Linked DNA regions of Homo sapiens. The protein of the gene in region 1 purifies or fractionates together with the protein of each later gene. This does not show direct contact. Each region holds a gene or a part of one and is shown on either strand. Other genes may lie near its edges.

Region 1 (3,657 bases):
CCAAACCAGGTCAATTCCCTTGGCAGGTACTTTATACTGATGGTGTGTCAAAACTGGAGCTCAGCTGGCAAGACACAGGCCAGGTGGGAGACTGAGGCTATTTTACTAGACAGACCTATTGGGATGTGAGAAGTATTTAGGCAAGTTTCAGCACTAACCAATGTGAGAAGGCCTCCAGAGATGAGCAGTTGGTGAAAGAGAGGCTCAAAACCAGCTACCATACAGGTCAAGAAGAATTTGGCATTAAGGAAACAGCATAGCAGGATTCCAGACAGGCAACTGGTCAACAACATGAAGGTCTGGAAGAAAGGTCGCAGGTACTCAGGTTCAGGGCACTACTTCAGCTTCAGCCCTTGCAAAAACTGGTGAGAGTTGGAAAGTCTTTAGGCTAAGAAAAATTGGATTATTTAAAAGGGGGTAAAGAAAGGGACTCAAGGAGGAAGGATTAAGGCAAGAACTAGGTTCCAAGAAACAGGGCATGAGAGAGAGTCTTGATCTACCACTATAGTTCTCGTGGTAGCATCAGAATCACCTGGGAACGTAGAAATGCAAATTCTCCTGCTCTACACTAGACCTACCAAATCAGAATATCTAGGGGGTGGGGCCCAGCAGTCTGTGCGCAAACAAGCACTGCAGGTGATTTTGATGCACATTATAGTTTGAAAACTAGGCCAGGTGCAGTGGCTCATGCCAATAATCCCAGCACTTTGGGAGACTGAGACGGGAGGATTGCTTAAACCCAGGAGTTTGAGACCAGCCTGGGCAACACGGCGAAACCCCACCTCTAATTAAAAAAAATACAAAAATTAGCTAGGTGTGATGGCTCCCACCTGTGCTCCCAGCTATTCAGGAGGCTGAGGTGGGAGAATCACCTGAGCCTGGAAAGTCGAGGCTGCAGTGAATTGTGATCACACCACTGCACTTCAGCCTGAGTGACAGAGTAAGACCCTATCTCAAAAAACAGAAAAAGAAAAACACTGGCCCAAAGGAAATGAACTTGTTACAGAAGCCGGGGTTCAAAACACCAAATAATGCACTTGTACCTAGTCCTTCCCGGGTGCTCTGCAGACATTTCTCCAAGCGTAGTCTGCAAACAACCTACATATGTAGAATTACCTATGCACATTTTTCATTTAACAACCAAGAGCTACATTTGTAGCAAAATCTGGGTTGTAACTTAGCCTACAGCTGAAGCCTAAGAGATTCCGTCTGTGAGAAGAAATAACCCACCTCTTTGGCCCCCCTCCCCAGGCAGGAAGCCAGGATGGTCCTTATATAAAGTTGTGCTGTCCAATAGGTAACCACTAGCCACATATGGCTATTTAAATTTAAATTAACTACAATTAAGAGAAATTAAAAATTCAATTCCTCAATTGCACCTGCCAAATTTTAAGCACATAACAACCACATGTGGCTAGTAACTACTGTATTGGAGAGTGCAAGCGGAGATAGAACACTCTATTACTGCAGAAATTTCTATTGGATAGCACTTATAATAGTTTAGTGTAACTTAAAACTCCCTAGTTGCCACAGTCATGATTTAGTAGTAATTTCATGGATTTCTCTACTGAGGTTAGAATCTCTGCCATTAGAGACTGATAAATTTAAAGTTTGCAATTATCAAACTGGTGACAATTTAAGCCAGAATCAGGTAAATGTCCTCAGTTTTAACAGCATTGGAATTTTCTGGGACTAGCTGTGTATCTATCCAGGATTCTTGAGAATGCCTGCCATTTTTCAACATAATGGATGTAAGGTATTACACATATACCTGGGGATGGGGTGGTAGGTATAATTGCACAAGCATTGTGGAGAATGGTATCAAAGAGTGGCAGAACATCACAATCAAGGTTTTCCCTTTCTTTTACCTTTGCTTTTTAAAAAGACAATATTTGCTGGACCTGATCTTATAACTCATAAATGGGACACTGTATGTTCCTTTTTACCTCCTCTGTTTCTACTTAATTGCACCCTATGAGGACTGCTTCCCTTACCTACCATAACCCCTTCCTTCACTCATCCATATCTTTACTCTTCTTCACAACTCTGTAATATTGACCTTCTTTATGAACCTTTCCTGGAACAATCCCTCTTAAGTGCAAGCACTGTTATTATGCCTTCAATGTATTTAATATCCATGTATCTATTCTCTCTAATTTTGTCATTTTGTGTTCTCATGTATTTTCATTCATTATGTGTCCAACTTCCATGGATAACATGGTTACAACAAAAGATCCTACTTTATGACAATTATCTTCCTTGGGTTTGTGGGACATAGAACAGTGCTCAGAGTAGGGGATCCAAGAACCCAGGAGAATATATTAGCTAAGAAGATAACTTCCGTTTTTAAAAGTCCAAGATTCAGGAGATCAAAACCATCCTGGCTAACATAGTGAAACCCCGTCTCTTCCAAAAATACAAAAAATTAGCCCGGCGTGGTGGCAGGCGCCTATAGTCCCAGCTACACGGGAGGCTGAGGCAGGAGAATGGCGTGAACCGGGGAGGCGGAGCTGGCAGTGAGCCGAGATCCCGCCACTGCACTCCAGCCTGGGCGACAGAGCGAGACTCCGTCTCAAAAAAAAAAAAAAAAAAAAAGTCCAAGATTAAAAAAAAAAAAAAAAAAGGATGTCTGCTTTGTGAGTTTAGCATTGTCTCCTTGTCATTCCAGAAATGAAATGGCAAATACATTTAAATCAGAACTAAAAAGGGGAACAGGGTATAAAGGCTCAATTTAGTCACATCATTTCCGTTTCTCACCCACCCCCTTTAAACCAGATGTTTGCCAATGCATTAACAATGCAGATGTTTCCTGAAAGAAAGTTTAGTAACTCAAGCAGACACCTTATTTTCTTTTCAAGCAGAAAAGACTATGAGATGGTGGTTGTGGTTGTTCCGGGAGGGAGAAGATATAAATGATACACATTATTTCAAATCATTTCATGACCTCACTGCACACTTATAGTTATTGTACCTGTTGTCTTTTTGCTGTCAAGCCTAGCTAAGATCATTTGGAATGTTCAAGATCACTCATACATGCATGTGCACACATACACATGCACATATGTTCACTCCCTATTTCATCCACATGAACTAAGATTACTGATGTGTACAGATTCAAAGCACTTTTATTCTTTTCCAAAGGCAAGAAGCTGAGCTACTTTCCAGAATAGTTGTGAAAGACCCTGTCATACTTCTGCATTGTTTCCTCCACACCACCTCCATCCAGTTCCTTATGAATGGTTACTGGTTTTCAAAAATATGAGATAAATTGAGTGTATAAAAGTCATTTTTAGACAAAATGAAACAGGAAATGAAAGAAACCAGAATCTCTCCTCATTTGTGGATGGGCCAGCTCCACCATGTCATGGTTAATCTGCAGGGAGGAAATACTAGATTTGATTGCAGATCAGACTGCAGCAAACCTGCTGTGACTAAGGCATCAAGAGAAAGCAAGCAACAGCTGGGGCTTCAGTGGTGAAAACATTATATATCTAGCTTTGAAATATGAAATACTGTTTAGCAGTGTCACCTAGAAAAGAGTGTTTCAAAATGCTGATGCTTCATAAGAACCTTTCTCTTCAGAGTTGTTTCTTTTATCTTTCAAATTAGCCAGGGTGGGAAATAAAGTGATCACTTGGTGAAGAAATCTCACAAAGA
Region 2 (3,657 bases), on another chromosome or scaffold:
CTGTCTTAAAATATGACTATCTGATAAATGTGGGATAAGGAGGACAGGGTTTCCAAAGGAAAGAAAACAACCTATTTGGGGAAGTTACATAAAATTCTATGCCAATAACTAAGTGAGAGTGAGGAATTCCTTTCATAGTGCCGTCTATCTTGTTTTTACATTACAAGCTAAATGATAAATATTAAAAATCAATAATAAGTAATAAAAATAAAATAGCTTAGTTGGGCACAGTGGCTCACGCCTGTAATCCCAGCACTTTGGGAGGCTGAGGTGGGTGGATCCCTTGAGGTCAGGAGTTCGCGATCAGCCTGGCAACATGGCGAAACCCCACCTTTACTAAAAATATAAAAATTAGCGGGGGGGGGTGGCACGCGCCTGTAATCCAAGCTACTCAGGAGGCTGAAGCAGGAGAATTCCTTGAACCTGGGAGGCAGAGGTTGCAGTGAGCTGGGATCGCGCCACTGCACTCCAGCCAGGGCAATAGACAGAAACTCCGTCTCAAAAATAAATAAAATTAAAATTAAATAAACAAGTTTATTTAGTAAGGAGCAAAATACCCACCGTTTCCTTAGGCTGACAGAGCACATGCATCTCCTCCAGCCTCTCTCTGGCATATCCAAAGTCAGCTTGTTTCCAAAATATGTCCTCAGCTGACTCAAGAGTGTCCGTCCTATTTGCAAATAAAAATATTCTGTGTTTTTTTCTTTTTACTTTTTTGGACCTTGAATTTTCATTCTAAAGGTTAAAATGCTAGAGGTTCCTTATTACTTTAATTTTGTTACAGTATATTATCATAGTTTTTCCAAAACTACGCCTCACTACATGAAGTTACGAAACTAAGTTATTCACAGAATTATTCCTTTATCATAAAATACATAACAGACATGTATGAAGTTATCACCTGAAACTGAAGCCAATGATGCATTCTTAATTACTATATTTTCTTTACCTCATTAACATTGCATGTATTGGAAGTACTAATTATACTTAATTCTCCCAGGAAGAATCAAGAAGAAACCATCCATTTATCTTCTTACTATACACTGGGGGAAAAAATTATCTATGGTCCTGGCTGTTTCTCCCTCTGGCAGAGGAAATGACAGATATTCCTATCCCAGTATGAAATAGTCAAGTTGAATTCATGACTGTGCAAGCAAATTAATATCTAAATGAATTACTATCTAAAACCAAAAGAATCTAGCTGGAAATTAGGGCATCAACATACACTGTATAGAAAGAGGAAGACTTGAAGAGGGTATTCCATATGGAAACTTACCATCCCATGTCGACATAGCTGCAAACTGGGTAACCAAACCTGAACTCTGGTTTGCAGGATTTCTCATAACCCCAGCAGTACTTTAGCTTCTCTAGGTGTTTCTAGAACATAAAACTTACATTGATTTCCCTTCTTCTGACATTTAGAGAAGACTCTTAGATTTTTCCATTAAGAAAACAAATCATTATAGAGCATTCACATTTACATTTATAATACGTATTCTTATAACAATAAATTTAAAACTTACAGTTAATTCTAAAAAGAGCAGTCTCAAGGTTCTTAACAATCCTCCTTACTCATCACCCCCACCATATCGGTCCCCTAACCGAAAGTCTGGGCTTTACCTAGACGCTCAAAGACCACTTGAATTTGAATTTCTTGAAGTAGCTTAAGAAACCACCTTTCTCAGTGAGCAAGCGGATTCTAAAATCAGTCCCTAAAAGACATATAAACTGGAATTTGTGCTACCAAAGGAATCACAGCTAAACTGAATCAATCAGCAACTTCACTTAGCAATCAAGATCAGCAGAGACCCCACAACACATGGACAACTCTGCCACCCTTGGGAACCACCCAGCTGCTGCTGGCCAAGGAGTTGAGAATGCTCTTCTGCAAGGCCCCAGGAGCAATGCTGGTCTGATTCCCAAGTCTGCTTTTCCATATGCTTCCTGTGCCAGCACCATGGGAAAGGAAGTGTCTCACAATGCCCAGCTTTGATCTCTGGGGCCCTGTGAGATGTCTTAATGGGCTCCTATTTGAGGCCTTTCCAACTCCTCTAAAACAGAAAGAAAGCCACAGTAACAGGCTTAATTATGTGGAGACAGAGGCTGAGGTGTTATTACTGAAATTAAGTGCTAACCGATCCTCTCATGTGCCGTTTAAGAAAGAAGAGGTGTGAAATTCTTTAGTTACTTTTAACAAGATGTTCTTTCCTGCATAAAATCTAATTGCTTCTTTACAGAGTTTACAAATAGTATTGGCTACTTATTTGTTTTAGAAGTGATTTAGATTTTAAATTTCTCTCTTATGAATGGGACATAATTTTAAGCAGTTTAGTCACTTAGAAGTATTATATGAAACAATGATTAACTTATACAGTGACAACCGAAAATTAGAATTCTGCCTTCAGTTTCAGGTTATAAAGCAGAACCTGTAAGCCAGCTGAAATTGCATCCTCATAAAAATAAGGAGAAAAGAAATAATACCTACCTTATATGGACAAAGAGAGTCTTTCCTACAGACAGTGGCAATATGCCTATTGTTGTGCAAAAAGAAGGGAATGTGCTCCTCTGGCAAGCGGATGCTGGCATAGTTATACAGAGGTTCGCCTGGAATGCTGTGAGTATTAGGAGGAGCTTCATTCTGACCACTCAGTGAGACTTCATGAAGTAAGACTCCAAAGACAAACAACATTAACATAGCAACCTGCAAACCTAGAGATCAAAATGAAGACAACTTTGTTAACAAATTTCCTTTAAAAGCCAAAACAACAACAACAACAACAACAAAAAAAAAAAAAAAACAAAGGGTCAAGGGCTAAGTATAATTACAAAGCACTTTGCTATCCCACTGAATAATGATCCTTTATTCAATTTTTTTTGAGCACTTGCTTGGTGCCAGGCACCACGTTAGCAAATGGGTATACAGAGGTGAACAAAACAAGAAAGAGCCTTGCTCTCATGGTGCCTTTAAACCTACTACAACTGTCATAAACAAGCAATCAAATAAACAACTTCAGCTGATGACTGGGCCTGTGAATCAAACCAACTAGGGGCCAGCAAACTTTTCCTGTAAAGGAGAAGCAGTAAATATTTTTGGCTTTGCCAGACATAAGATCTCTGTGGCAACTACACAACAATGCCTCTGTCCAAAAAAGTAGCCATGGTCTATTATAAAAGAATGGATGAGGCTGTGTTCCAATAAAACTTTTTAACTTACAAAAATTATGGAAGGGCTTGATAGGATCCAGTTTAGTGATACCTGAAACTAAATAAAGTAATATGATAGACAACATAGCATGGTGAACATTTAAAGCTTAACCACCTGGATTTGAATCGCAAATCTGCAGCTTCCCAGCTGTAAGACCTGGAACAAGTTACTTAACCTTTCTGCACCTAAGCTTTCCCATCTGTAAAATGGAAATAATAATAAACCTTCATCATAGAGCTGTCATGAGTTAAATGAGTTAGTTATTGGTAAAGTGTTTCGAAAACTATCTGGCACATGCTAAATGCTATGGAAATGTTTATTAAATAAAAGTTTAAAGCCATGTGGGGCAGAGAAGGGGCCTAAATAACATTAAAGCTGAGATCTGAATGATGAGGAGGGGAAAAGTATCTGTGAGAGAGCAAAGGGAGTGGGATGGCTCTGAGCAAGTGTGT

The links. The genes of interacting proteins can lie anywhere in the genome.
Region 2: the proteins of F9 (region 1) and EOGT purify together in Homo sapiens (affinity purification with mass spectrometry; 2 studies listed by BioGRID and IntAct, with this or other methods). This does not show direct contact.

The regions. Positions count from the first base shown.
Region 1 is NC_000023.11:139,551,239-139,554,895, forward strand, and holds part of F9 (coagulation factor IX isoform 1 preproprotein), read left to right. Parts: coding exon 1-26; intron 27-3,657. UniProt on the Homo sapiens protein: Factor IX is a vitamin K-dependent plasma protein that participates in the intrinsic pathway of blood coagulation by converting factor X to its active form in the presence of Ca(2+) ions, phospholipids, and factor VIIIa.
Region 2 is NC_000003.12:69,007,152-69,010,808, forward strand, and holds part of EOGT (EGF domain-specific O-linked N-acetylglucosamine transferase isoform a precursor), read right to left. Parts: intron 2,710-3,657; 5' UTR 2,696-2,709; coding exon 2,486-2,695; intron 1,378-2,485; coding exon 1,277-1,377; intron 671-1,276; coding exon 562-670; intron 1-561.